Regions from separate parts of the Homo sapiens genome. Here region 1 is linked to region 2. Evidence: fine-mapped expression QTL. A gene starts in region 2. The other region holds a variant in brackets. All regions are shown on one strand. Distances are between the middles of the regions. Region 1 overlaps MAP7 (microtubule associated protein 7). Region 2 holds the start of MAP7 (microtubule associated protein 7).

Evidence for each region. PIP is the estimated chance that this variant, and not a neighbour inherited with it, causes the effect.
Region 1: its variant is fine-mapped to the expression of MAP7 in macrophages (Nedelec 2016, PIP 0.95).

The regions. Positions count from the first base shown.
Region 1 is chr6:136,360,475-136,376,863 of GRCh38, reverse strand. MAP7 (microtubule associated protein 7) reads left to right here. Exons shown (of 18, transcript NM_003980.6): 8 at 4,239-4,363; 9 at 10,425-10,537; 10 at 10,846-11,129; 11 at 14,162-14,414; 12 at 15,685-15,859; 13 at 16,066-16,167. It also overlaps the pseudogene RPLP1P8. Among named protein-coding and RNA genes, the nearest start is that of BCLAF1, 79 kb to the right of the region's middle. The variant G/TTG (reference allele first, on the strand shown) is at 7,294.
Region 2 is chr6:136,541,008-136,557,396 of GRCh38, reverse strand. MAP7 (microtubule associated protein 7) reads left to right here and starts at 6,975. Exons shown (of 18, transcript NM_003980.6): 1 at 6,975-7,055. The coding sequence starts at 6,989. It overlaps MAP7-AS1 (MAP7 antisense RNA 1), which reads left to right and starts at 4,892. Exons shown (of 1, transcript NR_186370.1): 1 at 4,892-6,674. MAP3K5 (mitogen-activated protein kinase kinase kinase 5) reads left to right here. Exons shown (of 30, transcript NM_005923.4): 30 at 1-351. It also overlaps the pseudogene RN7SKP299. RefSeq lists silencers at 6,674-7,023, 7,064-7,243, 7,254-7,303 and enhancers at 6,525-7,062, 7,601-8,139.

The DNA of each region.
Region 1 (16,389 bases), 180 kb after region 2:
AATAATTGTTGGTGGTTTTATGGTGTCTTTCATCTGCAGTGCCCAATGAGCGAATAAATCTCAGTCCTAAATCTCATAGTACCCCTGGGAGACAGTCACGAAGGCAAGCGTGGGCATTCCCACAACCTTCTTATGAAAACCAAGTGCAGCGACAATAAGTGACTTACACCAAAGCCACTTAGAAAATGGGCAGACAGGATCATAAATGTGCTTTCCCCTCCATCCTCAATGCCCTGAATGATGCTTTATGTGCAAATGTGCAGTCAACTAGCTGAACCACAGTGTTCTGTGTTCTCTGTAAAGTCACACTCCTGTCAGAGCCATCACATTGCATCTGAGGTTTTCCTGGAGGAGGAGAAAGTACAGCTTATTTCAATATTTTTTCTTATGCCTATGAATTTCACACTTTTCTACAAGTCATGAGTTTTTCTTTAGCTAATTGAAAAGCTTTTAAACCACTTTTCAGGCCGGGCGTGGTGGCTCACGCCTGTAATCCCAGCACTTTGGGAGGCCGAGGTGGGCAGATCGTTGAGGTCAGGAAATCGAGACCATCCTGGCTAACACGGTGAAACCCCGTCTCTACTAAAAATACAAAAAATTAGCCGGGCGTGGTGGCGGGCGCCTGTAGTCCCAGCTACTGTGGAGGCTGAGGCAGGAGAATGGCATGAACCTGGGAGGCGGAGCTTGCAGTGAGCTGAGATCACACCACTGCACTCCAGCCTGGGGGATAGAGCGAGACTCCGTCTCAAAAAAAAAAAACCGCTTTTCAGTCCTATTTTCTAGCATTTAGCTGGTTTATGGCTGTCATGCTTCTGAATCTCCCCTTGTATGCTGTGTTGTGCTAAAGGACTGCCTCACAGCTGGGAAATTGTCTTTACTATTTTTGTCATCACTAACTCTTGTCACTTCTTTCACTCTCCCTCTAGTCTTTTCCAATACTGTTTCCTCATTTTCCACCCATTCTACTTGCCCATCTTCTCCCCTTCTTTGTTGTTATGCTCAACCAAGGTGCTTTTTTATCTGCAAACCGGCTCTTTATTTTGACACATTTCCATTCTCCTTTTCACAAGTTGATATGTTTCTGTAATTTATTTTAGTGTGAAAGAGTGCATAGCCTTTACTTGAGCTGCCTGTTTTGTCAATACATTGCCTGCTTCATTGTCACCAGTTTCATCGATACAGCTTATGTTTAATGAACCAAAATTCCTGGGGTTTTTTAAAATTTTCATTTAGAAGTATATATGCAAACATCTCTTCCGATTATCTTGTCAAAACCACATTTTCCATCATTTTTATTTTTCATCTATTGTCCTTGATTATTCTTTCATGTTTTCCCATTTTAGTGTTGTCCCTCAACCTCATCATATTCCTAATTGCCATTGGCAAGAAGGTAACCTATAATATGTCCTGTACTGGGTTACATCAGCAGATTAAACAGCTACTTTTAGCCCTGGGATATAGAGTGATTGCAAACTCCCTGCACAAACAATACAGTAGTTGAGAACTGGAACTCCCAGTCTCACACCTCTCATTTGCAGCCACTGCTTTGGGTTGACTTTTCTATACTTTTTTTCCCCGGGACATTCAAAATACAAGTGATTATTAGAGCTCAGGATTAAATAATGTATATGCAATGCTTAGACTAGTACCTGCACATAGTAGGCCCTCAGTAAATGCTAGTACCGTATTACCATATTATGCCATTTTTCTTTTTGCTATGCTACATTTCAACTACTTGACCTGCATTATCTTTTCTCTGCACCCATTATTTCGTATAGAAAATCCTGAACGAGTTCAATTAATGCATACTTACCACCAAGAGTAGGATCAAATACATATATTGTGGGAGACTTTCTTAAAGACATTTTCGTGAGACAGTGTTCATGTTTAATTAACTATTTGGGATATGAAGTGTACTCTGGGAAAAAATAACTATATATTGTTATTATTTCTTAAGAAGGGCAAGATTATTCAAATAATTGATTTGAAGATTTCAGGTTTTTCAGTACTTGCTATTCAGTGCAGCAATGAATTCCATGAAATCTAATATCCTTACAAGAAACTTAGGTTTATTTTAGCCAAAAGATGTTCTTTGGACTAAATTTGAGGATGTTTTTCTATGGACTATACTAGCTAGGTTTAAGGATATTTTCAACCCATATTTAGTATCATGTCAACATTAAAATAAAGAATAAACCAGAGGCCTGGTGATATTGGCTTACATCCATGATAGCTTCAGGAAATGCTCCATAGATACTTCATGAAATTGTTATTTTCCACTTGAGAGAAAAATCATATTTCTGTACTTCATTCCTTTTTCAGTGTCAGACCCATGGCCTCCAAGCAGAGCTGTTTTCTAGGGTTTCTTGATCCTTGAGCAAGGTGAATGGCCTCCGGCTGTGCCCTGAGCAGTGCGTGCCTCTGCCCCCGGTTATTAATCCCCAGAAGTGCCTTGTGCCAGGATGTTATTTCTTAAATGCATTTGATTGGCTTGGAAGAATTTTGCATTAGTGAACTCTTGTCTAGAAAATGCAAATGCCTTGTTGTGGCGCTTGAGAAAAGATTATTTTCAAAGAGTTTTTCCTGTGATCCCAGGCAAAATGACAAAGAGATTCCCTTCCTTCACAATACAAATCCTTCCTTCTCCATTAAGGTTGGAAGTAAAGCTTTATGTCAGTTTCCAATTAAGACGTACATATATTATTTTAAGGAAAACTGAAGAAATGAAAAAGTGTTTTAGTTTGTCCTGAAGAAACAGAATTCTGTTTTCAAATGATGGGAAAAGAGACCGGTTTCCAATCTATTCACTGTCAAGGCTGCAGTGAGCCGAGATGAGATCGTGCCACTGCACCTCAGCCTGGGCAACAGAGTGAGATCCTGTCTCAAAGCAGAACAAAACCATGCAGTGATAGCCAGAAGATACTGCCAGGCATTTAATGAAAGAGTGCATTAATAAAGATGCAATCTGATTGACTTTCTGTCTGTAAATTAAACCCAAATAGCAAATCTTTTTTCAACTCTATAATCCTGAAGTTAAGATCACCCCAAGTTTGTCTTGTGAACTTTTGAGTTAAGTTATTAATCCTCTTACATTCAGCTGGCATAGTGGTTTCTTTAAAGGGTTGCTACAAAGACTACAGTTGAGAAGTCCTTTTATAACCATGTCCAAATACATAGTATTCTCTATACTTGTGTTTAATTGTCTTATTTTTGCTAGGAAATAAAATTTCTGAATGAGATCTGAAAATGGACCTTAGAACCTGAATACTCACACTTTTGATACCTATGCAGTGTTATATGAATTTCCTTAAACCCACTGTTGTTTGCAATAAGTTGATTCATGACAGTGTTCCTTGGAAGGTAATGGTCAGAAGCTATGTAGTTTTTCATAAAATATTCCATCTTGAGTAAAACTGTAAAGGTTCTTCACGGTTCAACCTTACATTTGGCAGATCTAACATATTTCTGTTCTATTCAACATTTTAAATAGATATAGCTAATCTCCCCATATGCTCTAATGCTGCTTCTTATGAACTATCAAATGCCTTGGCTTTTGGGAAAACCCGGAAGCATGCATTTGGTTTGCCTATAAATAAATAAGACATGTACAGAATATTTTCCTGGAAAAGTATTACTTATCCTCGTGACAAGTCTTAACACCTGGTAAGACTTGTTCACTTAACATTTTTTAAGTTTGGTTGCTTTTTTCCCCTGCTGGCTGTTGAATTTGAATCCTGAAACAGTTGTAGTATATCTTGCTTGCCTGCTTGCACGCTTCCTCTCTTTCCACCTTTTGTTCCATCTTAAAGCTAATTTAGGAAAAGTCTGGTTATAAACTAGTCTTTATATAAAAATTATCTTTTATCACTAATGTAGTTTTTTTTCCAGAACCATCAGCTAATAGGAATATAAGACCATTGCTCTCCATAATTACTGGATTACTTCTACATCTTTCATTAGTATTTAAAGAGCCAAAGAGCTAACAATATATTCCAGATTTTTTACGTGGACATGCCTTCCTTTTGGACTCATCATAAATTCATAGGACTGTAAGGACAGTTGAGTATGATGGTTCTGGGCACCTTTAGGTAATAACATCTTCTTCCTACTTTTCTCTCTATCTCTGCTTTGCTCCTTTTCCTGAACCTGCTTTTGGCTTTCTTCAACTGCTCCTCTGGCACTCTTGTGTGTAAAACCAATCACCTGCACCCTAGTTATCCCCATTTGTCCTCGTTCAGCATCTTGCAGCCCCATCATCATGCCCTACAAAGCTGCACACTCTAGAAATTCGATGGATCGACCAAAACTCTTTGTAACACCACCTGAGGGCTCTTCTCGCAGGAGGATCATTCATGGCACAGCGGTGAGTAGCTGTTGGGAGCAGCTGGGCAAGTCTGGGAGCCAGTGCTGTTCCTGTGCAGACTGTACATGACCCTGAGCTGTGGTGTGGGCGTAAGAGGGGGAGACCGTGACATCCACCATCCCATCTTTCCCATTGATCATGAATCTGGCTAGCTGGGCAGTAGTGTCCCCTCACTTCCTCTTCACTTGGGGATTTTGCTCTCCCTAAACATTTGAATTTGAAGATGAAAGCTGTTCTTTGTTCAAGCATGTATGAGTGGACGCCCTACCCTCCTGGAGCGTCCATACACATAAGTACAATGCCAGAATACTTTCATTTTTGAAAGTAGGAAAACCAAATGGCCTTTGAAGGGGAAGTGGGCTTGGACTGCTGCCTTGGCATTTTATTTCAACCATATCCAGAAGCTGGCTGAACTCTAAATGTGGTTCACTCAAAAGCAAGATAAAGAATTTTTATCCTGCTTGGCTAATCCCTGTCAAGGCCCTGTCAAGGGATCTTAAAATTTAGTCAAAAAAGTATTTTGAAAACATTAGTCATTTGCTATATCACTAATTCGTAAAAGGCTGTTAGGCTGTGCTATAAATTCTGATTTTGTAAGTGAAAAATATAATTTGTACTTATTATTACGGGCTGAGGTAATGTTAATTTTCACCATGCTATAAATGCAATGAGGTAATTTGTATGTCTCCAGGAATCTTCTTCTTTGTTTTAAATCTTGTGTTTATTTGGTGTCAGTTGAAAGATATAAACCTTGTTCTGTGGTCTTTAGACATTGTACTTTAGTCTTAAAGGACTCACCAGTGAACTAGAAGATCTCATTGCCTCTCTCCAGGATAACAGTATGACCCTTTTGATGAAAGGCTGAAACAGTTTCTTAAAATCGTAACTTCCCAGAGCAATTCAGATTTATAAACCTGATGGACACTTAAAAGGATTTTGCTTAAAGGATAATTCAGGGTTGTGAGAGCTTGATGGCTTTGCCTACAGCCTGTTTTTCTTTCAAGCTCCATCGGCCTTTCTGGAATCAGTGTTTGATTCATGATTGAGTCAGGCCTCCAACCCTCTAAGCCACAGGTGAAACAATCTTTGATGTCTGGAAAGTTTTAATTTATTAGAGTGTTGGTGTTTCAGAGATCCTCCTTAGCTGTAGACAGAAAGCCGTAGTTAAACAGAACAGGTTGGCCCCAAAGTTGGGTACTCACTGGGCAGGGGAAAAGAGCATTTACCATGGAAAAACTATCTTGTTCTGGGTAAAAACAAAAATTAACACTCCTTGAGAGAAGGTTGAGGGCCACCTGTGGCTGACAGGTTAAATGAGAGATTTGTCATCACATGATCCAGAGCCTTGTTTTGTTTTGTTTTTATTACCTTCCTCTTTCTCTATTTAATCACATAGCTGTCTTTTTACCTCTTTACAACCAAGTATTTAGGCAAATACTAACAGAAAACGACTCAGAGTCATTTATACCCTGGAGCTGCACTGTGGAATTCAGTAGTGACTGGCCACAGTGAGCACTTGGAAAGTGGCTACTGAAACTGACAAGCTAAATTTTAAGTTTTTAAAAAATATTTAGTTGTGTTAAAAAAAAAAAAAAGCATGTAACGTAAAATTTACCATTTTAATCATTCTAAAGTTCAGCAGTGTTAAGTATATTCATATTGAAGTGCAACCAATGTCCAGAACTTTTTAAGTCCTGCAAAACTCAAACTCTATACCCATTAAACAACTCCCCATTTCCCCCTCCCCCCAGGCCCTGGCAGCCACTGTTTTAATTTCTGTTCCTATGAATTTAGCTACTTTATAGACCACATAAAAGTGAAATCATGCAGTGTTTGAATTTTTGTGCCTGGCTTATTTCACTTAGCATAATGTCCTCAAGGTTCATTCTTATTATAGCATATGTCAGAATTTCCTTCCTTTTTAGGGCTGAATTATATTCCATTATATTTGTATACCACATTTTGTTTATCAGTTCATGTGTTGGTGAACATTTGGGTTGCTTTCACCTCGTGGCTATTGTGAATAACGCTGCTATGAACATGGGAATATAGATATCTCTAGAGATTGTTCTTTCAATTTCACTTGATATATAGGGATTGCTGGATCATATAGTAATCCTATTTTCAATTTTTTGAGGAGCCTCCATGCCATTTTCCACAGCAGCTGTACCATTTTACATTCCCACTAACAGTGCACAAAGATTTCTGTATCTCCACATTCTCGCCAACAATCGTGATCTTGTTTTTTGATAACAGCCACCTTAAGGAATGTGAGGTGATGTCTTGTAGTTTTGGTTTGCATTTCTTTAATGATCAGTGATGGTGAACATATTTTCATATGCTTGTTGGCTTTTCATGTGTCATCGTTAGAAAAATGGCAATTCCAGTCTTTGCTCACTTTTTAATGGGGTTATTTTGTTTTTGTTGAATTGTAGAGTTATTTATATATTCTAGTAGTAACCCCTTATTAAATATATGACTTACAGATACTTTCTTCTATTCCATAGGTTGCCTTTTTACTCTACTGATTGTTTCCTTTGATATATAGAAGTGTTTAAGTTTGATGTTGTCCCATTTGTTTATTGTTAATTTATTGACACTTTATTGCCTACGCTTTTAGTGTTATATCCAAGAAATCAGTACCAAACACAGTGTCATGAAGCTTTTCACTTATGTTTTCTTCTAGAGGTTTTATAGTGTTAAGTCTTACATTTAAGTCTTTAATCCATTTTGAGTTAACTTTTGTATATTTTAGAAGGTAAGAGTCCAACTTCATTCTTTTGCATTTGGATATCCAGTTTTCCCTGCATCATTTGTTGAAGAGAATGTCCTTGTTTCATTGAGTGGTGTTAGCTTTTGACCATATACACAAGGGTTTGTTTCTGGGCTCTGGATTCTATTCCATTGGTCTATATATCTTTTTTTTTTTT[G/TTG]AGACAGTCTCACTCTGTCACCCATGCTGGAGTACAATGGCACAATCTCAGCTCACTGCAACCTCTGCCTCCCAGGCTCAAGCAATTCTCATGTCCAGCCTTCTGAGTAGCTGGGAATACAGGCATGTGCTACCACGCCCATCTAATTTTTGTATTTTTAGTAGAGAGAGGGTTTCGCCATGTAGGCCAGGCTGGTCTTGAACTCCTGACCTCAAGCGATCCACCCATCTCGGCCTCCCCAAATGCTGGGATTGCAGACATGAGTCGTAGTGCCCAGCCCCATATATCTATATCTGTCTTGATACCATTACCACACAGTACTGATCACTGTAGCTTTTCACCAATTGAGTATCTCTAATTCAAAAATACAGAATGCTCCAAAATGTGAAACTTTTTGAATACCAACATGACACTCAAAGGAGATGCTCATTGGAGCATTTCACATTTCCAGTTATATGGATTAAGGCTGCTAAAGCAGTAAGTGTTAATGCAAGTATTCCAGAATCTGAAATCTGCACACTGTAATCCCAATCATTTTGGATAAGGGATACTCAACCTGTAATATGTTGTGAAATCAGGAAATGTAAGAATTCCAACTTTGTTCTTTTTCAAGATTATTTTGGTTCTTCAGGATCCTTTGAAATTTTCTGTGAATTTTGGGTTGAATTTTTATATTTCTGCAAAAATAAAAAATTATATTGGGATTTCAATAGGGAATGCATGGAATCTGTGGATCCCTTTTGGTAGTAGTGACATCCTAACAGTATTAAATCTTCTAATCCCTGCACACAGGACTTCCTTCCATTTATTTGTGTTGCCTTTAATTTCTTTCAGCACTATCTTCTAGTTTTCAGTATGCAGATCTTTAGCCTCCTTTGTTAAGTTCATTCCTAAGTACTTTATTCCTTTGGATGCTATAGGAAATAGAGTTGTTTTTCAAATTTCCTTTTCTATTTTACTTAATTTGAATTAATTTAGATTTAAATTCAAATAGGCAAATGTGGTTAGTGGCTAAATTTAGAACATCTTCATCATATCAGAAAGTTCTATTAAACAGCACTGCGTTAAAGTATCTGTCAGTGAATCGTCTCTGTTGGAGGATATTTATACTGTATTCTAAACCTACCTTAATTATAAAATTAAAGTCCTTTTCCTGCTGATATGTTGCCCAGACCATTGACTTGCTGAGTATGTGTTCCCCCTCAGCATTGTGGAAACTATTAATAGGAAAGATGATTGTATAGATGGTGGGCTATTAACTCAGATCAGGATGAGAATTGGGAGTGCCTTTACATGTGTGGTACCCAAATGGGTGGTTGGATATAAGAGTAACAAAAGGACTGAAAGGTTTAAAAAAGAAAGAAAAAAAAAAACTCCCTGGTTGGGAGGGTGTTAAGTATCGAGTGTTTTTCCAAACCATTCCTCCTCTGCTCACCTACCCCTAGGTGATTAAAGGAGATAACTTTTAAAAAAGAAAGAATTGGCTCAAAGGTACTGTAATTCTAGGATTATATACCTTTATATAGGTTCATTCCCTGATCCCTGTATTATCAAGGCACAGATAATAATAATCCCCAACCACCCCCACGCCACATCAAAAATTGTCCCTCTTGAGTCTTTTTCCCATTTACATCACCCATTGATCTGATTTCAGCCAAATCAAAATGTTTTGAGAAAAAGAAAAAAAAAGAAGGGCTACTTGAGGTACTTAACCCCAGTCTCCCCTGGGAAAAGACCTGGGCATGCCACCCTGTACACCAGCCAGGAGTGCCCCATATGGTGGCTGCAGCTTTTGATACCCAAAGCCCACAGCAGCTCTGTGAGGCCCCACCTCCTACTTTTGGGGACCTAAAATGGGAGAAATGGTGGTTGAGCAGCTGGAAATGATGCAGAGCTGGCACACACCTTGTGAAGCTCTTCTCTGCCTCTTTCTTCATTTTTTCTGTTTAGAAATCCCAGGGAGACAATGAGCATTATTTGACACTTAAATGTTTTTGCTCCTCTGATAACCCAGACCATCAACTAGGATGCTGCTAAGGAAAATGGAGGGAAGCAATTAAAAGGGACACTGAGGGGAACAAAAGGGAAAGGAAGGAAAAGAGGAGTCGATGCTTGAGCCAGGCAGAAAAGGAGAGAAGAAAAGGTACAGTACTAGTTCATGTGACCTGGGGCTAGATAATACTCTGCCCCTTCCCATGTACGCTTGCAGTCTGCCCTCCTGACAGGTGTTCACATAGGTGCCTCCAGCACGTGCCCCTCCCACCTGAGGGCATTGTCAGGTTTCAGATACTTGGAATGGGTCTGTTTTGCTCTGTACAATTTTTGTTTGTTTGTTTTGGTCTTCATTGACTTTAGAGTAGTGGAACACTTCTCTGGGCTTCCCTTTGCCCATTTTGACTTAGGAAAGTGTCATCTCTCAAGCTGAATTCCTAGTTGGCAATCAGGGAGGGGTGATGTTTTGGCCCACCTTCAGATTTCAGTTTATTCCTGGTAAGGAAGAGCAAAAAAATAAATAGCTGAAATTCCTCACTTTAAACCTGACTTTTCTTCAAAATCACCTATTGTATCAGTTATCTATTGCTGCAAGAGGACAGTAGGTGAAGAAGGACTTGATTCCATTATACAACATCAATATAAAAGAAAAAAATGAGTTTATGTCTAATATAGCAGGCATATAATTTTTTTAAAGACTGAGATATAGTGTGTTTGGGGGGAAAATGTTGAAGAATTAAAAAGAAAAAGATGTGTTTTAATTAAAATTTTTTAAAAAATGAAAGTAACATTTGACATTTGTGGGGGATAAACCAGAATGGGACGTTTTGCTTCAGGTAATTAATTTTAGACACAAAGTATAGGTGCTTTCTAAAAGTATGTACACACATATGCTTTTTGACAAATATGACTCCAACACATCCGGAATCACCTTATTAGTGTCACATTGTGTTAATTCAGTTATACTGTTCAGTGTTAAGCTAACAAGGGCCTTTTGTTGAGATGGAATGGGTATATGTGACATAGCTAAGAAAATTTCTTAAAAGTCATTCAATGGTTTCTAGCTCCACTGTTGAGTATTGTGAGTGTGTTTGCCTCGCTTGTGGAAAAATCTAACTATTGAGTTTCTCTGAACTTAGAGCTATAAAAAAGAAAGAGAGAGAGAAAATGTACTCTTCCTCACATCTGGCACCCGAAGGGCTGTATCTCCATCTAATCCCAAAGCAAGACAACCAGCTCGCTCCCGACTTTGGTAAGTGAAATATAAGTGGCTGGCTGGGTTGTTTCATGTTAGAGAATTAGTAGCTCTCTCCTCTGAAAGTGAACTGTTCTTCTCATGCTGTTTGGCTTTGACTTAGGGAATAGCATTCTTCCCAAAAGGAAAGAAAAAAGAGAAATTGGAATGGTTCCCTAAAGCAACTCTATTTCTGTATCTACCACATAAAAAACAAATACACGGAGCTAAATATCTGCATTCTCTTCCATCGAGTCGTGTTCTAGGTTCTGGCAAGCCTGTTCTCATGTGTCCCCTTTTGTCTGCCTTGTTTGTTTGTGGCCCAGGCTTCCGTCCAAGTCTCTTCCTCATTTGCCTGGCACACCCAGACCGACATCCTCCTTGCCACCCGGCTCAGTCAAAGCTGCTCCTGCTCAGGTCCGGCCCCCATCCCCCGGCAACATCCGCCCTGTCAAGAGGGAAGTCAAAGTGGAGCCTGAGAAGAAAGATCCTGAGAAGGAACCTCAGAAAGTTGCCAATGAGCCCTCACTAAAGGGCAGAGCACCTTTAGTGAAGGTAGAAGAAGCCACAGTTGAAGAGCGGACACCTGCTGAACCAGAAGTTGGCCCTGGTAAGAGCAAACTCACCTGTGGTCTGGGTGCTCTCTCTTTTTCTCCCGCACTGTTTTGATGAAGCTTTTTTTGTTTTCCTTTTCTTCTTTTATTGGAGACTTGGAAATTTTACTCTAAGGTTAAGTTTAATACCTTTCCTTAAGTATAATATTTTAACTTCGCATTGCTTAAAAATAGTTTTTTACTTAGCAACGCTAAGTAAAAAATTACCTGGCAACACTATTCCTGTGCATACTGGAGTTTAAGGACCCCTGGCGTAGCCTGTGTGCTTGATAGAAGTCAGAATTTTTTCCAGAAGACCCACTGGTTTTCACCTCTGCCAGGGTAACCAGATGCTACTTAGAAATGTAAAACCACCTGGAGCTTGAAGTTCAATATCTCTAGTTGAAAACTGTCTTCATTCCAAAGTTTTCTACTTAAGACTTAATTTGAAGATAGAGGGTGGGGCAAGAAAGAGGAGATGATTCAAGACAGGTGAAAATGGTAGAGAAAGGAGGAGTCCAGTGTTTGCTTCCATGGAAAAAGAAAGAAAGGAAAGGAGGGTCATAGAACATCATAATAGCCATGAAAAAAATCTGTGGAAGCAGAAGTAGAAATGTAAATCTCAAATCATACATCCAAAAGCCTATTGATAGAGCCACAAACACGTGAATTCAGGTGTAGGTTCTCAGTGCTTTTATTGGCTGAGTCCATTTCACAAAATGTGTTCAGAGCACCTGCATCAAAATCACCTGTTGTATTCATTATCTATTGCTGCATAATGAATTAGCAGCATGAAACAACAACAAACATTTATCATATCACATGGATTCTTGGGTCAGGAATTTGGCAGCAGCACAGCTGGGTGGTCCCTGCTCAGGACCGCTCATGAGATTGCAGTCAAGCTGTCCACTAGAGCTCCAGTCATCTCAAGACTCAACCAGATCTGAAAGGTGGCTTACATACAAGGCCGGGGGCGGGTGGCCTCAGCTTCTCCACACATGGACCGCTCCATATTATTGCTGAATGTCCTCATCTATCTGCTTGCTCTGCTGGCTTCTGCCAGAGTGAGTGACCTGGAAGAGAGAATGAGGAGGAATGTACAATGTATTTTATGACCCAGTCTCAGAAGTCGCACACCAATGTTTCTGCCACATTCTGTTAAGTAGAAGCAAGTCACTAGGTGGAACTCACACTCAAGGAGAAACATAGTCTCCAACTTTTGAAGAGAGAGTTTTCAAAGAATTTTTTTTAAGAGTTCAGCTTTTTATTGAACTTGTTACAAAAGAGGTTTAGTCAAAAAGACCAAAGCCCATATCCTCCTTGGACTCCTCAGACTCTCTTTTCTTTGCTTCTATTTCTTCTCCTCAGCTGGAACAGCATTGGTGGAGGGGGCAGGACCTTCTGCTGGTGCAGGTCCACGAGCTCCTCCATTGCAGATGAGGCTCCCCATGTCAACATTGGCCAAGGCTTTTGCAAACAAGCCAGTCCAAAAAGGTTCAACATTTACACCAGCTGCTTTAATGAGGGCATTGATCTTATCCTCCTTGACGGTCACCTCACCCTCATGCAGAATGAGGGCCGAGCCTTATGCAGAATGCAGGCGAGCTCAGAAACAGAGGCCATGGTGTGAGCAAGTGTGGGGCTGGCACTGCCAGGCAAGGTGCTAGTTGCCAGATGAAGTGAGGGTTCCACTTCAATGTGGCCCTACATTCCTCAGAGGGACCGAGTGCAGCTTGGCAGCAGCTGAGGAAAACTGGAAATATTTTTAAACCACCACATCTATAATGTTTTGACATACAGACCCTTGGTTTTTACCTCAGACTTACTAAGTCAGAATATGTAGTGGTGGATATGAGGACTCTGAAAGATACTAAGCTTGTCAGTTGATTCCTAAACATGGTTGCCAGATAGAACACAGGGTGGCCAGTTAAATCTGGCAATGCTATTCCTGTGCATACTGGAGTTTAAGGACCCCTGGTATAGCCTGTGTGCTTGATAGAAGTCAGAATTTTTTTCCAGAAGGCCCACTGGTTCTCACCTCTGCCAGGCTAGCCAGATGCTATTTAGAAATTTAAAACCACCTGGAGCTGTGAATTCAATATTTCTAGTTGAGAATTGTCTTCATTCAAAAGACTTAATTTGAAGATAGAGGGTGGGGCAAAGAAAGAAGAGATGATTCAAAACAGGTTAAAATGTTAGAAAAAGGAGGAGTCCAGTATTTGTTTCCATGGAAAAAGGAAGGAAAGAAGGGCTAGAGCATCATGATGGCCGAGAAAAGTCTGTGGAAGCAGAAGTAGAAATGTGACTCTCAAAAGGAGGGGCTGGAGCAGCCAGGGGCCAGAGCTTGCACTTGCTGGTGCCTTGCTCACTGTGGTGCAGAATTGTGAGCATCAGTGTGGGGCTTCTGGGGCACCAGCTCTCTAGGTCATCTTCCTAAATCCGAGTAAGGCCAGAGAACTTCTGCTCCCATCTTGCATCTTGGCAGCTTGGGATATATAAGCAGAATGAGCACCAGCTCCCAAAGAGGCCCCGAGCTCCTCCCATCTCAGACCTAGAGACAGCTCTGGGGAGACAAAAGGGTCCTCTTCATAGGGTATCATCTTCCCAGGCTGAATCTGGACTCATGGCATGGATGCTGAGGATGCTGCTCTAGTAATGAATGGTTACCGAAGAGTAGGAATTTTCAAATGCAATAAAAGACAAATGGATGATCTCATCTTCTTTTTGCTCAGTGTATAACTCCCCACAGACTCTAACATGAGGCTTTGTACACATTCAATATATGTTAACTGATTTAACTGGTATAAAAATAAGACTTGGTGACAGAGTGTCAGCTTTGTTGGATGTCTTACTTACACATACTGATTTTTTTTATCTGTTGCTTGGTTACAGATAGAACATAGTGAAACCGTGAGAACACACAGTAATAAACATTCCCTTTTCTTTCATAATGGTAAATTCTAGGCCTTGGATGTGGGGAATGCTAGTTTTGGTTTTGTTCTTTGGATTTTGTTTCCAACTGGTTTTCTCCTTGTACCTATTTGTGCAGCTGCTCCAGCCATGGCCCCAGCTCCAGCCTCGGCCCCAGCTCCAGCCTCGGCCCCAGCTCCAGCCCCGGTCCCCACCCCAGCCATGGTCTCAGCCCCGTCATCCACTGTGAATGCCAGTGCTTCTGTTAAGACTTCTGCAGGCACCACCGACCCAGAGGAGGCCACAAGGCTTCTAGCTGAGAAGAGGCGGCTGGCCCGAGAGCAGAGAGAAAAGGAAGAAAGGGAGAGGAGGGAGCAGGAAGAGCTTGAAAGGTAAATGGGAGACATTGCTCCACACCATGGTGTCAGTGATACTTTGGATTAACTCATCACCCCTCTGAGAGGGAGGAGGTGATAATACTGATGAAAGTGAATGGATTAGTTCTTTCAGGATTACTCTTACCTAATTTTCCTATGACTACTAAGCAGTTTGTTTTTTAAATCACATCTTCTTCTTTTTTTTAAATAGAAATGGGGTCTCACTATATTGCCCAGGCTGGTCTCAAACTCTTGGGCTCAAGGGATCCTCCCACCTGAACCTCCCAAAGTGTTGAGATTGCAGACATGAGCCACCATGCCCAGCCATGTTTTCTTATTTTAATGACAGTGCAACAACATTGATGGAGAAAGCTTTAAAGAAAAAAAAAATCCATAATCATACCAATTTTCAGTAATAGTGTACATTTTGGGTGGTCCTTTCTAGTCTCTCAACAGTATGGGAGTGTGTGTGTATATATACATACATATACATATTTACATAATTATAACCACAGCAGAGGTACAATTGTACAGTCTGCTTTTTTACTTAACACATCTCCAATCTCCAGGTTTCCGTTTTATCTTTGTAATTATCACATTAAGGCTGCATAATAAGGGTTCATGTTTTCTCCTTTCCAGATAAAACTCCTCTCGGAGGGTAGCCAGGTGGGATCTTTACATGCCCCATGATTGCCTGCCAGGCAGTATTCCAGAAACAGTTTGTTTAATTGGTCATCTTCTGGGCCTAATAAGACGAATGTCAATATAATTGTTCTTCAAACGAACACAACTGTACCCTGGGGAAGGATCTCATGCACTCGCTGGACCGCCATCTTGGCCATGCCTTTCCCTTGGCTCCAACAGGGAGCTTACATGGCTGTCTTCCTCCTGTCCTGTGACAGAACACTGTGACCCTTATTTATTTACAAAGATTCCCTTTGGCTGGGGTGCTTCAAATTCATTACTAAGAAGTCACATTATTTGAATTAAACAAGTCAGAGCCTTTAAAAAATAGTTAAATTCCTTCCAAAAAGCCAGCTCTCCCCAAGATATTGGTGGTTACACGTTGCTTCTATTTAGCACGGACAGCAATGCAGCTGGCAAGGCGGGAGGAAGTCTAAGGGTGGCTTCGCGCTTTGTCCCTTAGCAGTGGTGAAGGCATCCAGTGGGGATTTTTCTACTGGACGCCTAAAGGAACCGCCCTACAGAACCACCGACGGAGGCCTCTCTTCAAAGATTTCTCCTCAGGTGTCTTTGGTTTTGGTTTTGTTCTGTCTTTTTCCAGACAAAAGAGAGAGGAATTGGCTCAACGTGTGGCTGAAGAGAGGACGACTCGCCGTGAGGAGGAGTCGCGCAGGCTGGAAGCCGAGCAGGCCCGGGAGAAGGAGGAGCAGCTGCAGCGGCAGGCGGAGGAGCGGGCGCTGCGCGAGCGGGAGGAGGCAGAGCGCGCCCAGAGGCAGGTGCGGCCGCACCCCACCCTGGCCCCGGCCCCAGTCCCGCAGGGAGACGCCCCAGCCCAGCAGAGGAGGGTGCGGACTGGACTGCTGGTGCTCCCGCTTTCCACACCTTCTCCATCCGCCACCTCGCCCCCACCTCTGGGCACCCCCTGGGAGACCCGGGCAGCCCGCCTGTTTGTCAGAGGCAGACGCCGACCTTCTGTTTTCAGAAAGAAGAAGAAGCTCGCGTTCGTGAAGAAGCAGAGAGGGTCCGGCAGGAACGAGAGAAGCATTTCCAGAGAGAAGAGCAAGAGCGCCTGGAGAGAAAGAAGGTAGCTGCGTCTTAGTAGAGAGGCCCGGGACGCGAACTTGCACCTCTAAGACCCAGAGACTAGCCCTGGCCGTCAGAAAACGCGTGTTCTACCCTTGCCACATAAACTAGTAGCCCCCTCAGTGATAACAATCTCCTGCAAAGAAATCTCTCTCGGTGTTTTAGCCGTCACCAAAAAACACTTACTTCCACTTCATGTAGCTTAAGGCAGTTCCAACTTTCT
Region 2 (16,389 bases):
TGCACCACTGGAACAAAACCAAAATGTGACCATAACTGTTTAGGCTTCTGTGTGTTTGTAATATGCTCTAATAATCTGAGTAGAAATGCGTAATTTCAATTACTGTATAAAGTTTATGTTTTTTTAAGTGTGCAGAATCTGAGAGCAATGGTTTTTACTTCTCTGTGTTAATTGTAATATTGACTCTATTTTGTAACTTAAGTTTCTGACCTGTCGTACATTTGTTTGAGTCGTTTATGTACTACTGAACTGTACCAGTTGCACATGCTTGAACTGTAGTAATGTTAGCTTGTTCTAAAGCTATCCATTGTGTCATATTTACTCTAAAAATTAAAGAGACTCTCAACATACTGTTTTGATAAATTCTAAAGAATTTTTATTTTGTGTTGACAAACTAGATAATCTGCTGTGTTAAATTTCCAGTCATTTCTCCAGCTGTAACATTAAGTAAAATCTGTCTTCTATTCAAGCAGTCAGACAACTGACATTCAGGTTGTTCCTCAGAGGAACAGAGGTTTAAGAAAGAGGGTAAGCCTGGGCAACAAAGTGAGACCCCACCTCTACAAAAACTCAAAAATTCAGCTAGGCATGGTGGTGTACACCTGTGGTCCTAGCTACATGGGAGGCTGAGGCAAGAGGATCGCTTGAGCCCGGGAGGTCGAGATTGCGGTGAGCCATGATTGTGCCATTGCACTCCAGCTTGGGCAACAGAGTAAGACCCTGTCTCACCAAAAAAAAAGAAAAAAAAAAAAAGAGGATGAAGAAAAAAAAGAATAAAGGAAAGTCAGTATATTTTTCTCAAGGCCCCAAGTTATCTTGGATAACTATGGTATATCTTAAGGGGTCTGCAAAGACCATCTTAATGGAGAATACTGCTTGCTTTTTTTTTTTTTTTTTTTGAACAGAGTCTTGCTCTGTTGCTCAGGCTGGAGTGCAGTGGCGTGATCTCAGCTTACTGCATTCTCCACCTCCCGGGTTCAAGTGATTCTCACACCTCAGCCTCCTGAGTAGCTGGGATTATAGGTGTGTACCACCACACCCAGCTAATTTATATTTGTAGTAGAGATGGGGTTTCGCCATGTTGGGCAGGCTGGTCTCGAACTCCTGCCCTCAAGTGATCCGTCCTCCTTAGCCTCCTAAAGTGCTGGGATCACAGGGGTGAGCTACTATGCCTGGCCAAGAATACTGTATTTTTCTGTCTCCTTAATTTTCTTATATTTGGATAAACATTTTTATTTATTTTAAGCTGAGTAGTATATTTTTATGAGCCTGCCCATATTGATCAAAGGAAGTCTGATGCTCCTAGATGGATAAATGAAATACATTTTCTTAAATACAGAGGAACCTGTTTATTAGGCAGGATAAAAATAACATAGAGCTGTTTGTATATCATGATTTCACTCATAAACAACAGTCTTTGACAAAGCAGAAGACATCTTTATTTTGAAAACATTCTCACTAATGTTTTCTGATTGATTGATCGAGACAGGTTCTCACTCTGTTGCCTAGACTGGAATGCAGTGGTACGATCACAGCTCATTGCAGCCTTGTCCCCTTAGGCTCAAGCAATCCTGTCATGTCAGCCTACAGAGTAGCTGGGACTACAGAGGCACACCACCACAACCAGCTAATTTTTAAATTTTTAGTAGAGGTGGGATCTCACTGTGTTATCTAGGCTGGTCTTGAACTCCTGGCCTCAAGTGATCCTCCTGCCTTGGCCTTCCAAAGTGCTGGGCTTATAGGTGTGAACCACTGCTTCTGGCCTCTTTTTTAACATCCTAATTTGGAGGACAGAGTTGCCTCTGGTATCCTGTGTGGATATTCTGAAATAAGTGAGGTATAAATTCAATGATATGCCATTTGGCTCATACTGAAACACAGAGTAAGCCGTTTATTAAGCCACAGTTCATCTTCTCAATTCTAATGGTGAAGTGCTTCTTTTGACTGTATATAGGATCCAGCTACCCACCATAAACCAAATCTTCAAGGATACAATCTTTCCTTGGTACCTTCCTCTTACCCTGTCTTTGTGAGCAGATGATCCTCTGTCCCTACAGGGTTCTAACACACTCCCAGGCCAACATCATTAGCCATTTGTGAGAATTTTGGGTCTCAGGCACAAAAGAAGACAGTTCCATTATGGAAGACTCCATTATGGAAAGGTTTGCATTTGAAACGCTTTTAGGATCAATCTAGGCCAGTGATTCTCAACTCAGCTTCGCATTAAAATGACTTGGATGCTTTTTCAAAAATATTGATGCCACCACCTTGGGACAACTGAGTTGTTGTTGTTATTTGTTTTTTCTTGGGACAGAGTCTCTGTCACCCAGGCTAGAATGCAGTGGCACTGTCATAGCTCACTGCATTCTTGACCTCCTGGGCTCAAGTAGTCCTCCCACCTCAGCATCCCAAGTAGCTGGGACTACAGGCATGCACCACCATGTCTGGCTAATTTTTAAATTTTTTGTAGAGACAAGGTCTTACTATGTTCAGCTCACTCTGGTCTCGAACTTTTAGGCTCAAGTGATCATCCTGCCTCAACCTCCCAAAGTGTTGGGATTACAGGCATGAGCCACTGTGTCCAGCCGGAAAACTGTTTTTACTGGTCTGGGGTTGGGCCCAGATACCCTTTTTAAAAATTAGTTTCACAGGTGTTTTAACATGATCAAGCTTCACCTCCTTATTTCAGGTAACAGCTAGAGAGGGAAATGGAGAGCCCCTTTCTATAGAGGGAATAGCAAGATGGTTAACGTTCATCATTTGTTTAGCGTAGCAGGAGGCTACACACCCAGGCCTGAAGCAAAACTGTAACTTGACTTGTGACCTGGAACAACTGAATTAGTTTCTCCAAGTCTCAGCTTCCTCATCTGTGAAATGGAGGAAATGATGTACCTTCCACATAGGTCTGCTATAAGATGTAAATAAGAAAATGGAGGCTGGGCGCAGTGGCTTGTGCCTGTAATCCCAGCACTTTGGGAGGCCGAGGTGGGTGAATCACTTGAGGCCAGGAGTTCAAGATCAGCCTGGCCTACACAGCAAAACCCTGTCTCTACTAAAATTACAAAAACTAGCCAGGCGTGGTGGCGCACGCCTATAATCCCATCTACTCGGGCGGCTGAGGTACGAGAATTGCTTGAACCCAGGAGGTGAATGTTGCAGTGAGCCGAGATCACGCCATTGCAATCCAGCCTGGGCGACAGAGCAAGACTCTGTCTCAAAAAGGAAAAGACAATGCAGGAGAGGTGCTCAGCACAATGCTTAGCATACAGTAAACACTGAGATATGCTTGCTATTGCCATCACTTATCCTTCATTCAAAAGTATTTATTAAATACTGGGTACTACATATTGTGGTGCACCAACAAGATACAGTTCTTTCCCCTGAAGTTTCTTGTCAAGGAATCAAGACAAAGCAGAAACAACAGTGGTGCAGTCAGTGCTATAGTTACATTTACTGTCAGAAGGGGTCAAGGAAAGCTTTCCAGAGGAGTGAAGGTGCAGAGCTGAGCCTGGAAAGATGGTTTGAAACAGAACAGTTAATGCAGGGGTGGTGGCAGTGTTATAAAAGAAACAAAACAGGAATTTGCTGGGAGAAGTAGATCTAATGTTTCCTTTTAACTGCATTTTGATCTCTTTCTTCTGTCATTGGATACTTGGTTTCGTTCATCCCTAGGCCACCACATAAAAAAGCTTGGCATTGAGGAATTATTAACCCATTTGAATGCCCACTGTGTGTGAGGCACGGTAGCAACACAAAAGATATATACCATGCCTACCAAGTTCAGAATGCAGGCAGTGCACATGATGTCATCAAGAACATCTGCAACTCGTGAACAAATAAAATAACTGATAGTTCTAGACTTTATGGACACCCTGTAGAGAAGTAGAGGACAAAGACCCTACTACCAAAAATGTGCATCAGATTGAGAAGGCAAATTTGCAATAACTCATGCCTAGTCTATTTTAACAGCTGGACAAGTATCAAGCCCAGCAAGCCCTGGCCAGGTCCAAAGGACAGGCATGCTGGGAGCCAGGGCAGGAAGAACAGGCTTCATGGAGGAAGTAGACCTTAACCTGGGCCTCAAAGGGAAAGTATTATTAAATACGTCAGGATGAAGGACATCACTTCGGGCAGAGCAGCTTCAAGCACAAAGACTAGAAAGCAGGGATTTGGAAGGTGTTCTGGAGAATGAACAACTCCATGGGCTAGAAATATGAGTTACAGAGGTGAAAAGTGGAAATGGGTAGTAGAGAGCTCAGGGCCCAATTAGGGGGTGGTGGTGGTGATGGTGAGGAGGTGAAGTTAATATTTACTTATATAGGAACGGGGAATCTATTAAAGGTTTTTGAGCAAGGGAGAGGTATGTGTAAAGTGATTGTATATTGCAAGATTAATGTGGTTTGGAACATATTAAATTAACAGCAGGGTATCTTGATAGAATTGTGCAGGGACCATTCAGAATGTATTAGTGGAAGTCAGGAGTGAGGTTAAGGGTATATATTCTGGAGTTGGGAGTCACCAGGATCCGGGATGGAAGTAATAGTAAATGAGGGCTGTGAGAGACAGTAAAGATAAAAAGCCTGTGGTTTACAATTAGGGGATGGTAAAAATATTGGAGGATTAGAAGGGAGGAAGAATCTGAGTCAACAAAGACGAAAGGACTGCTACAGAGGAAGGAGAAAAACCAAGCCAATGGTAGACCAAGAGCAAGGTGATTAGAGGATCAAGTGCTGCAGAAACTCTAGGGGAATGATGGATTTAAAAATAAGTAATTTGATTTGTATACATAAGCAAGAAAAACTATTAATATATAGCTTTTTTTGAAAAATAACGGCACCAAAATCCACATTTATTTTTATTACCTTTGGTGAACAAAACATACGACAATAGATTCTGGAGGGTGGGACGTTAAAGGAAGACATTTTAAGAATCAAAGAGTCTTAGCTGTGTTTATTGGGGTAGAGCCCTTGGGTGCAGAAACATTTAGGGATTCGGGAGAAAAAAGGGATGATGTTTGAAGGAGGCAGGAGGGAAGTGGACGGTGTCAGGAGGTTCAGCTCCTCCCCTGGAATGGGGAACCCTGAAGATTTGAAATGGATGTGGGAGCTCCAGACAGATGGCTTCCATGTTCCAAGTAAAGTACAACTTGAAGTACGACGTGATGGTGTTTGACATTTAACAGATGTCATCTGTTCTCTGCAGAGTCACTCAGCAGCCTCCCCTGTTGCAGACACCTCCTTAGGTTTGGAACACACTGTCTATACAGGGCCTAAGTGCAGGATTTTGGTGTGTTCCTTATTTCATTTATTTTTGTTTAACTTGTGGCAGATAAATACAGGTTATCAAAAGAATGGGACAATGAGTAAGCACACACCAAACTAAACAAAACAAAACAAATAGAAACATCACAAGTCTTGAATTTTTTTTTTTTTTTTTTTTTTTTTTTTTTTTTTTTTGGTCAAAGAAAGAACTCATTGGTTGATTTAAGTCGGTGGTAAATCAGAAAGTTGAAAATAAATCACCCTCCTTCTCCAGGGTTCTTCCGGATAGTTCAACTCTAAATTCAGCTGAGAGTATTTCTGATGCTCAAAGAAAAGTGTCTTAAACTCTGATGTTTTAATGTAGTTAAAAAAAACACAAAAAATCTTTGCTGAGGCCCAAGCTGAGGTCAAAAACTACCTCTAGCCATCTGGTGCTTTATTTTTATTGATTAGAAGTCTCTGATAAGACTGATTTGAATGTGATTTAGGAATATCACATTCTAAATGGTCAGTTTGCCTATTCCATTATAGAAATGACACTACGGGAAAATTCATCATCACAGACCACAGCAGAAGTGTTCTTTAGTTAAAGCTCTACCTAGTCATCCAGAAAGCCAGTAAGTAAACCAAATAAAAATAGTTCACTGGGCTCAGAGTGGCAAGTTTTGCATGCAAAGATCGTGAAAATTGTAACCCTAACAATAAATCCAATACTGTTCTCGACTCTCTTGTGTGTCCAGTGCTGCTGCAGTCCTTGGAAGGCTTTTAAACTGTTCAGAGCTTGCTGGTTATCTTCAGCCAAGCCAGAGAGTGGGAGTGCAGTGCATTTTAGTGTAACCATGCGGAACTGGTCGCTCCTTGATTTTGTGCCGTATGTTTCCATTTGTGTAGGCTTTTTCCCCCCTCAGTATTTTGTTGCTTATCCTTTAGAGCGAAATTGGTTTTTCCTCGGCCAATAATCTGTTTCTTTAAAAAAAGAAAAATTCGTTACCTATTGCCTTTTTTTCTGGTCTTCCTGAGCAAGCCAGAAGTCACAAGGTCGTTTACTAAACGGAAACTAAGAAAAAGAAAAGCCACATCAGCCGGCACAAGCCTCTCTAACTTGTGTGCCCTGAGGCTCATCAGATGCGAAGTCCTGGCGACAAGATAGGGTCGCCCGCAGTGGCTTCCTAAAGCGCAGATCCAGGCCGGCTCCCAGCGTGGAATCCGACCCATGTACTTCGCCTCTCCACGTGGCATCAGATGCTCTGCCGGCTGTCACCGTGAACTCCAGCCCTCGCGGAGCCGACACTGACCTGGCTACTTCAGAGTTCGGAGGGAAATAGCGTCTCCGTACCCTCGCCCCACCTGGGCTGCTCCTCGGACCGCCGCTCGTCCCAGACTCCAGGAGGCGCCACCAGGCCTCGCTGACCCCGCTCCATATCTCCGGGAGCCCTCAGCTGGTCGGCCGCGGCGACCGGAAGCTCCGGACTGAGGTACTGGTTCCGCCCGCCGCTCTTCCAGCCGAGACTCGGCAGCGGCGGTCGGAGCGGCTGCCACGCCGCACCTGCCCGCGAGGGGGCGCGCCAGGCCCAGGCCGCAGCCGACTGCCGCGCTCTCTGTCCCCGCCCTCCGCCATCCCCGGACTGCGCTCACCTGTCTGGGCCGCTGGCCTGGGAGGCGGGGGCCGGCGGGAGCCAAGCCGAGGAAAGGGCGGAGCGGCTCTCCGGGCGCGTCATCGGAGCACCATGGCGGAGCTAGGAGCTGGCGGCGACGGCCACAGGGGCGGCGACGGCGCAGTGCGAAGCGAAACAGGTGACCGCACAGCGGGGATAGTGGGGGTCCCGTCGGGCAGGGGACGGCGAGCGGGGCCGGCGGGCTGGCACCGAAATCACCCGGCGCCGGCAGCCCCCTCCCCGCCCGCGCGGCCGCGGCCCGGAACAACCGGCCCTGCGCGCCGCGCACCCTGCTCCGAGAGCGCCTTCCCCCGCCCTTCGCCGCCGCGGCTCGGCCAGCCCGGCTCGGCCCCGGCCGGGGTTGCGGCCGCCCTCGGGCGCTCCACCGCGACTTTCCCGCAACAGGTGGAGGCGAGCCGGGGGAGGAAACGGAGAGACCCCGGCCGCTGCCCTCCCCGCCGCGGCCTCGGGTCTAATTCAGTTGAATGGGAAATCGTATCCCCCAGACCAAACCAGTGGCCAGAGAGTCGTCGGCCAGGTGCGACTGGCAGGACGAGCAGTTTCTGGGCACCTCCTCCCGCCTTCCCTGGTCGCCCCGGGTGCCGGGGGCTCCTCAGCGGGGTCGGTGTGGGGCAGGACCGCGGGGTGAGCGGCCCGCCCCCCAATCTGGTGCCCGCAGTGGCGACGACCGTCGTCCGAGGGGACCGAGCTCGGGAGGGCCGGGGCCCAGTGCAGCACGGTGGGGGTTTGCGAGTGCGGGCTTGACGGGATCAGACTTTCGTTGACTTGTCGGAGTTCTCAGAGTTTTTTGTTTTTAGTCTGTGCAGGAGCCCAAAGGAGGATTGTTGGCTCTGCAGCCCGGGATTTGGTGGTCAGGCCTCTGTGTTGAGGATACCCCTCCCCCACAACCTCCAGGGGCACACTTAGGGACAGGGGATCACGTCCCCAAGACCAGCAGCAAGGCTTCCCAAGACCAGCAGCAAGGCTTCCCAACCCCGCCCATCTCTCCATAGTATGAAGCCGATTTTTCTCCCTCGTGATTTTTTTTTCTCCAGAGGCTATCTTGCAAATCCGTCCCTCTCCACTGGTTCCCTCTTCTATTCTTGGCCAGTAAGCTGTTTCTATATCTTCCTACACTTGGGGATGGGGGCAGTGAGGCAGTTTCTTACTTTAAAAAGAAATTCAATTCTTAGACTCTCCAATTGCAAGCTGTTTTCCACTTCCATACGGTCACAATCGGAAGCATTTGTTTCCTAAATGTAAGAATCACTGTCTCCCCACCATCAAGTATGCTTATTTTAACGTGAAAGGTCCAGAGAGCTCTGAAACAGTATTTGCAAATTATGTATCTGCTATTGCTAGGAAGAGGTTGGGTACGTAAAGTCTAATGATTTAATCCCTTCAGCCAAGATACCTGAGGTTAAGACTGACAAAGTATCTTGAACTTGTTTAAGTCATGCTCCTTCCTGTAGGGAGTTTGTCTTAATGTGTTCGCAAGATTGGTAGATCATTATTTTGTTTTGGGGTGGAGAAGAGATGCCTTTGTAATTGCTTTCGGGAATTTGATGAGCTAGACGCTGGGACGGGGCTCCCCCAAGTGAGGGCCCCGGGAGAGGAGCATCCTCATTTGTAAATATACGGCATGATTTTCGTTCCTAACCCTGACCCAGTAACTGCATGTGAAACAACATTGTTCTAGCGAGCTAAGTGTTAGTTTGTGCTCAAAAATAAACTTTCTAGAATCTGCACGTGAACAACTTGTTCAGACATAAGTGAACTGACTACAAACTGTAGGATATTCAGTGCCTGAGCATGTTAAGGAATAGGCCGTGCTTCCAACAATTAATATACAAATCAACCATGTGCCTGTCAGTGTAATATTTTCTTTTATTAAAAAGGGAGTTAAATTGGCTGTTATCTCCTTCATAGAAAACATTTCTTCCACACTTTTGCCTAAAAACTTCATTTTCCAAAGGACATTTTTTATATATGGTCTTGAATAATTATACTTTATAATTTCACTGAAAACTTAATTCTGGCCCCGCATCTCTTTCCTATTTTTCTACCCCAAGATTACTATTAATGTTTTTAGTGTTCAGAAGCATTTGTGTCAGCAGGTGCCAAAGAAAGAAGGAAGGTGTAAATGTATTTTTTTGAATCTAGGTGGTAGTTATTTTGAGAGAACAAGTGAGATTGTTTGAATTTCAACAACTTAAGTTATTCCATATATTTAAAACACATGACCTATATCTGAATATGAGACTTTAATTTAGCACTTCATTCTGGTGAACATATTTCACATTATACACATCCAAATACTGCAAGTCTCATTTTTTTAAACAATCAGAAGTTTGTATGGAATTGTTGGGGGGGTGGGGGGGGGTGGTGGTGGTGGGTGGCCGTGGACAGAGAAACTATTACCATCAAGAGTTGAAAATTGCCACCTTAAATGGCAACATTTCTTGAGGGATTAATTTTATTTCTTTTTAGAACTCATTATTATGAGGTAGAGTCCACTCTTAAATAACTCTTAGTTTTTGGGTCTCTATACAAAGACTGGTCTAATTTTAGGGCACTTTAGATGAGAATATCAGGTTATTATAAAAATGATACCTGTAATGTGTTCAGAATTATATGTGTGAGTGTGTGTGTGTGTATATGTGTATCAAAGATGAATTGACAGTGGTGGCGTGTGGCCTATGAAATGAGACCGTTCTTAAGCATATTGAAAGCTATTATATAAACCCAACATTTAAAAACCCTATTTCTGTGGGTATATATTCTCAAAGTTAGTCAAATCACATTCTTTGTGGCGAAAACATTTATTTTTCTTGAGGATGAAAAGTTCTTCCAATATAATATTTTTCTTGCCAACAGCCAAAGTTAAGAGCTGGGAAAAAAAAAATTGCCTTGGAAACAAGTTTAAGACATCACCACTAGAGGATGTCAAGTCCTTTTTCAGCCTTTTTTGAGTAGTCGACCTACGATGGGTGATATTCACAAAACTGCCTCTACCCAAGCTTTGTATATTTAATTTTATGTTCATGTTCAAGAGCTGTGGAAAGCGAGTGTACAGCACTAATTTCCTAGTCTGATAGCCTGTTTTAAAAACCTCCTGAACTAAAAGCAAATTTAAAGCTGCTTTTGATTAATTCATGAAGCTTTCATGCACGAAGGAATAAGTTAATGCCAATAACCTGTCAATTCTGTTGATATTTTGGGAAGTGGGTCATGACTTAGAATCTGGAATTGGGCTTTTTGTCCATTTTAGCAACCTGTGTGGTGAACATGGCCTCTTTCGTGACCATCCTTTCATGAACTTTTCCAAATCAAAAAGTGATCTTGTAGGTGTCACTTAACTCTAAGGGTCCACATTAAATATCTGCAATTAAATAAGGGCTCAGACGTCAATTTGGTATTAAGCTTGTCCCCTTTGAAAGAGATGCTTCATTCACATAGCTAGATAGCTTTTCTCCCATCCTATATGGCTGTTACCTTTACATCTTGCTAAGTAGGAGGAAACGTTATTATTAGACTAGGCAATTGTGCTCAGGAGCATGCATTTATGTAATATTGATAGGCTTGTGTGAAATATTTTTACACAGTTTATTTACACTGGCATTTTCTCTAAAAAAATTCTAACATCTTTGCCTCCCAATGCATGAGAAACAATCATTTGGAAGAGTTATTTTTAAAAACTCGGGCCTCGTATTGATGTAAGAATTGAAAATATTGAGGCTTAGAATAAGAAATGTGTACCTTCTGTGTATTCAGCATTATGGTGGTTAGAAGGCTGTTGAACAAATGATCCTTGAATTTAGCAAGGAAGACAAAATTCACCAACAAACAGTTGCAGGTTATGAGGAGTTCAGTGAAGGAGGAATCACTTCCGGCTGTGGTCAGCAGGAAGAACATACTGGATACAGCACTGAAGTTAAATTTTAAAAAGTGGTGGAACTGGAGATCATTATGTTAAGTGAAATAAGCCAGGCACAGAAAGACAAACATTGCATCTTCTCACTCATTTGTAGGATCTAAAAATCAAAACAATTGAACTCATGGACAGAGAGAGTAGAAGCATGGTTACCAGAGGCTGAGAAGAGTAGTGGGGGTAGGGGGTGGGAGGTGGCAGGGAGGTGGGGATGGTTAATGGTTTGAAAAAAAAAAAGGCCAGAGGCAGTAGCTCACGCCTGTAATCTCACCACTTTGGGAGGCTGAAGCAGGCAGATCACATGAGGCCAGGAGTTTGAGACTAGCCTGGGTTACGTGGTAAAACCCCATCTCTACTAAAAATAAAAAAATTAGCCTGGTGTGGTGGCGCACGCTTATAGTTCCAGCTCTTTGGGAGGCTGAGGCAGAAGAATCACTTGAACCCAGGAGGTTGAGGTTGCAGTGAGCCAAGATTGCACCACTGCACTCCAGCCTGGGTGACAGAGCGAGACCATGTCTCAAAAAACAAAAAGTTAGAAAGAATAAGAATAGTAACAAATACTATTTGATAGCACAGCAGATTGATTATAGTCAATAACTTAATTGTACTTTTAAAAATATCTAAGAGTGTAATTGGATTGTTTGTAACACAAAGGATAAATGCTTGAGGGGATGGATACCCCATTCTCCATGATGTAATTATTTCACATTGCATGCCTGTATCAAAACATTTCATGTACCATATAAATATATATACCTACTATTTACCCACAAAAATAAAAAAAAATTAAATTTGTTTTAATTTAAAAAATAAAAAAATAAACTTTTAAAAATGGGTAAGTGGGATATAAAATTAGATGGAGGAAAGGGAGAAAAAGATGCAGGTGTGAAAAAGAGCAAAGTTTTGGTCATATTGACACATGTGTAAAGCTCAAAGAAAGTCCTAGGTCAGTTAGGAATGATTGTTCATCGAAGTCAAATTGTGGAAGGGCTGAAGGCCAAACTGAGAGGCTAGTACATTTTTCTGGGGTAGGGTAGTGGGGGAAGTGTTGAGGATTCTTGAGAATAAAGGATATTGATTAAAGCAGGAATAATCAGGTAGTTCTGTGCCCATGAATCTTGAAATATTGATTGCAAGTTCTAACAAGAGCTCAGCTGTGCCTTTAGCTAATGAAAGCAAAGTTCCTCCCTCTGGGAAAGTCATTCTCTTCCATTGATTTTTTTTTTTTTTTCTTTTACTGCTTTGGGAAGGGTGCACCTGGAGGGATGAGAATGCATGAGGAATATCTGCCTAGCCAGATTAGCCAAATCTCTGGAGATCAATGAAGGGCTAGGTCTACTCAGCTGGTCCTCATTTCAAAGTAGCAACGTGGACTTGAGGATGGACTGAAGAAGAGTTCAGCGACATACACACCAACTTTGAGATTCCTGCAGAAATCCAGGCAGTCATTAGCATGGCAATAGGAAGAGACGATTAATTTAAGGTTCTGCAGGGGCATGTGTCAAAGGATTGCAGGTAAAAAGGTGACATATGAGACTTTTCCAAGTTTGAGTTTGGCTCATTGACTTATTGGAAAATATTCATGAGGAGGACCTGTTTTGTTCTTTACCCCAAAGAGATGGGGGGCGGGTCTTGCTATGTTGCCTGGGCTGGACTTGAACTCCTGGGCTCAAGTGATCCTCCCGGCTTAGCTGTTCGAGTAGCTGGGACTACAGGCATGCACCACTGTGTCCAGCAGAATCAGGTTTTGGTGGGAGAAACAGGAAAAAAACCTCTCTGCTTTAGACATGAAAATGTGTGGTACAAGAGAGATCTGTAAGTGGAAATGTTCAAAAGGCAACTGGAAGTATAGGACTAAAAGAGAAAAATAGAGGTCAGGACTCTGGGATTCACTCCATAAAGGAATAATAGCTGAAGGTTTGGGAGTGAGGAGAGCTCAGAAAAACCACAAAGGGGTGAGACGACCTGTAAAGCATGGGAGGAGGAAGAGCCAGCAAAGCAGACAGATGGAAAAGCACAGCTGAGCAATGTCACACCTGCTGAGAGGGATGGAGAGGTAAGGGATTCAAAGACTGATGAAGACATTTTATAAAAAGCTGTTGGTTTGGTTACAAATAGTCACTGACCAACCCCAGAAGAGGAATTTCAGTTGTTGGTGCAAGAGTTGGGGCTACATCAGATTAGAAGTGATTGTGAGATAAGCAGTTTGGGAAGAAAGGTAGCCAATTTAATAGACCCTCCCATAAAGCTTGCTGGTGAGAGGAAAAAATTACAAATCCTTGAATAGGCAGAGGGATTTTAAAAAATCTATTCTAAAATTTGCGTACAGTCCAGGTGCGGTGGCTCATGCCTGTAATCCCAGCACTTTGGGAGACCAAGGCGGGCAGATCGCTTGAGCTCAGGAGTTCGAGACCAGCCTGGGCAACATGGCAAAGCCCCATCTCTACTGAAAATACAAAAATTAGCCAGGTGTCGTGGCATACATCTGTAATCCGAACTACACAGGAGGCTGAGGCAGGAGAATTGTTTGAACCTGGGAGACGGAGGGTGTAGTGAGCCGAGATGGTAGCACCACATTCCAGCCTGGGCAACAGAGCATGACACCTTCTCGAAAAAAATAATTTGTGTGCAAAAAAAATTACGGATTTTCTTTTATTTTCTTTTTTTAGTTTTGTTGACTGTATAGGTAATGTAAGCACCACCGTTAACATTATCCCAAAGAGTCCTCTGCCTCCAACCTAAATTCCCTAATGCTGCACCTTTGTAGTGAGACTCTCTTCCTACACCTAACCCCTGGCAACCACTGATCTGTTTACCATCTTCCTAGTTTTGCCTTTTCCAGAATGTCATAAAAGTGGAATCATACATTGTGTAACCTTTTTTTCTTTTTTTTTGTGAGACGGAGTTTTACTCTTGTTGCCCAGGCTGGAGTGCAATGGCACAATCTCAGCTCACAGGAACCTCCTCCGCCTCCTGGGTTCAAGCGATTCTCCTGCCTCAGCCTCCCGGATAGCTGTGATTACAGGCATGTGCCACCATGCCCGGCTAATTTTGTATTTTTAGTAGAGATGGGGTTTCTACTAAACCCCATCAGGCTGATCATGAACTCCTGACCAAAGGTGATCCACCCGCCTCAGTATCCCAAAGTGCTGGGATTACAGGCGTGAGCCGCTGCACCCAGCCCCACATTGTGTAACCTTTTGAGTCTGAATTTTTCACCTGGCATCATGTTTTTGAGATTCAGGCACACTGTTGTGCATGTTAGGATGTGGTACATCCTTTTTCTTGATGAAGTAGTTTGCCATTGTATGGAAGTATCACAGATGGTTTATCAAAGAACATTTGAGTTGTTCCCGGGTTTTGGCAATTATGAATAATGCTGCTGTAAACACTTACCTACAGGTTTTTGTGTGAGCATAGTTTTCATCTATTCTGGGTAAATACCTAGGAGTGGGATTGCTGATTCATGTAACTGTATGTTTAACTTTATAAGAAATGGCCAAGCTTTTCCAGAGCAACTCTACGGTTTTACATTCTTACAAACAGTGTATGTGAGTTCTGGTTGCCCTGCATCCTCACTAATACTTAGTATCGTTAGTTTTGTTTGTTTTTAAAACTTTAGCCATTCCACCAAGTTCTTTGAGTAAAGCAATGTAATCACCTCAAAGTAAAATAGTGCCTTTTTAATGCTAACCCATGCTCACATGAATTAGGAAAGCCTGGAGGTGGTGTTGATCCCAGAGCCTAGGTATAATACGGAATTTATATTTGACTCTAATATCTTTATTCTCCTTCATTCTTTTTTCCCCACAGTATTTCTTTTTTTTTTTAATTTTAACACACCATTGCTTGCTTGAAGAGCCATAGTATCTCTTATTTCCTGTGGAGTATGCATTCTGAAGTTGATTATAGACGGAAGTGCCATTATATAGCACATTCCCTGCCAATTCAAGTTCTCTCTTCCTCCTTAATGGTCTCTGTTCTAATCCCTTGAGATATGGCTTTCTAGAACTTGGAAATAACTTGTTTTGTTGTTAGAAAGCTAGACATATTGTTCATATACTTTGTTTATTATCCTGATTAATTCCTTATTGGAACATCTTATATTGTCAAACTGAATACTTACCAGTTCTCAGATACAGTGCTTTGTAAAGCCTTGATAGTCTGTCATTGGACGTTTCATCAGTTGCTCATGGTCTAAGGTTCTGTAAGCTAAATGTGAATGGTATTTAGGCTTATACTTTTTTATAAAATTCAGTTTTAGGGTTTGTCTCGTTCTCTAGCGGTGATGTTGTCTACCTCTTTACTATCTTAGCTCTTGTAAAACTCTGAGTTACGGTTGTTGACACATTTAAATGGCATTTGGATTTTCTCTTCAGTAATTATTATTCTCTTTAGTATCTTTTTAATTTGAGAAATAGCCTGTTGAAAAAGATCTGTAAGATTTTTTTATTAGGTACCACTTTGAAATTTTTTTTAAATATATTTTTTGAGACAGAGTCTCGCTGTGTTGCCCAGGCTGGAGTGCAGTGGCACGAACTTGGCTCACGGTAACCTCTGCCTCCCAGGTTCAAATGATTCTTGTGCCTCAGCCTCCCGAGTAGCCGGGACTACAGGTGCCCACCACCATGCCCAGCTAATTTTTGGATTTTTAGTAGAGAGGGGGTTTTGCCGTGTTGGCCAGGCTTGTCTTGAACTCCTGAGCTCAAGCGATCTGCCCAACTCAGCCTCCTAAAGTGCTGGAATTACAGGTGGGAGCCACCACTCCCGGCTCCACTTTGAATTTTGATTTGAAGAGTAATATATAGTATTTGACACTGAGAAAAACTGCATTCAACTGTTCTTCATCCTTGATGCTCCTATAGAAATAGTTGTGAAAAAAAGAATCATGAGAAAGTGCCAAGGAGGATTGACACACCTGACCAGATGGCACAGAGGAGCACGGGGTATAAAACAATGCAGGGAGGAGGCTGGGAGCAGTGCACTTGGCATATGTGAGCTGCACTTCATAGGCACTGTTAGTAAATGATATATCTTTAAGTTTAGAGTATTGAGATTTGGGGTATCTTAAAATTTCTAATTCTGTGACTTTTAAAATTAAATGATATGTAAGCTTCCTTTTTGGAGTTGGCTTTCTAGTAAAGAGAACTATCCTTCACTATGGCATAACCTCTGAGTATAAAACTCATTTCCCCAACACTGTTGAATGTAGAAAAGTTCTCTAGGATCAGTTTAAATGTCAAGGTGAAGTTCTAGAAAGGAGCCCTTCCTTAGCACCTCCACCCCTCATCATGAAGCCTACTTGGTGGCAATAACATGCATAATAATTGGCTGTAAGATGTGTTCCTGTAGCAAAACTTTTGGCTGCTTCTCAAGATTCGAATCTGGGCTTCTGGTTCTCAGAAGCTCCTGACCCAAGCCTTTGGGGTGGCAGGCGCACCAGACAGGACCTGGTTGCTTACTTCTTGCATTCCAGCTGGACTGGTTTCTATTCATGGTAGATGCTCCAAATTAGTTCAGTGACAACTTCACCACAGGCGTG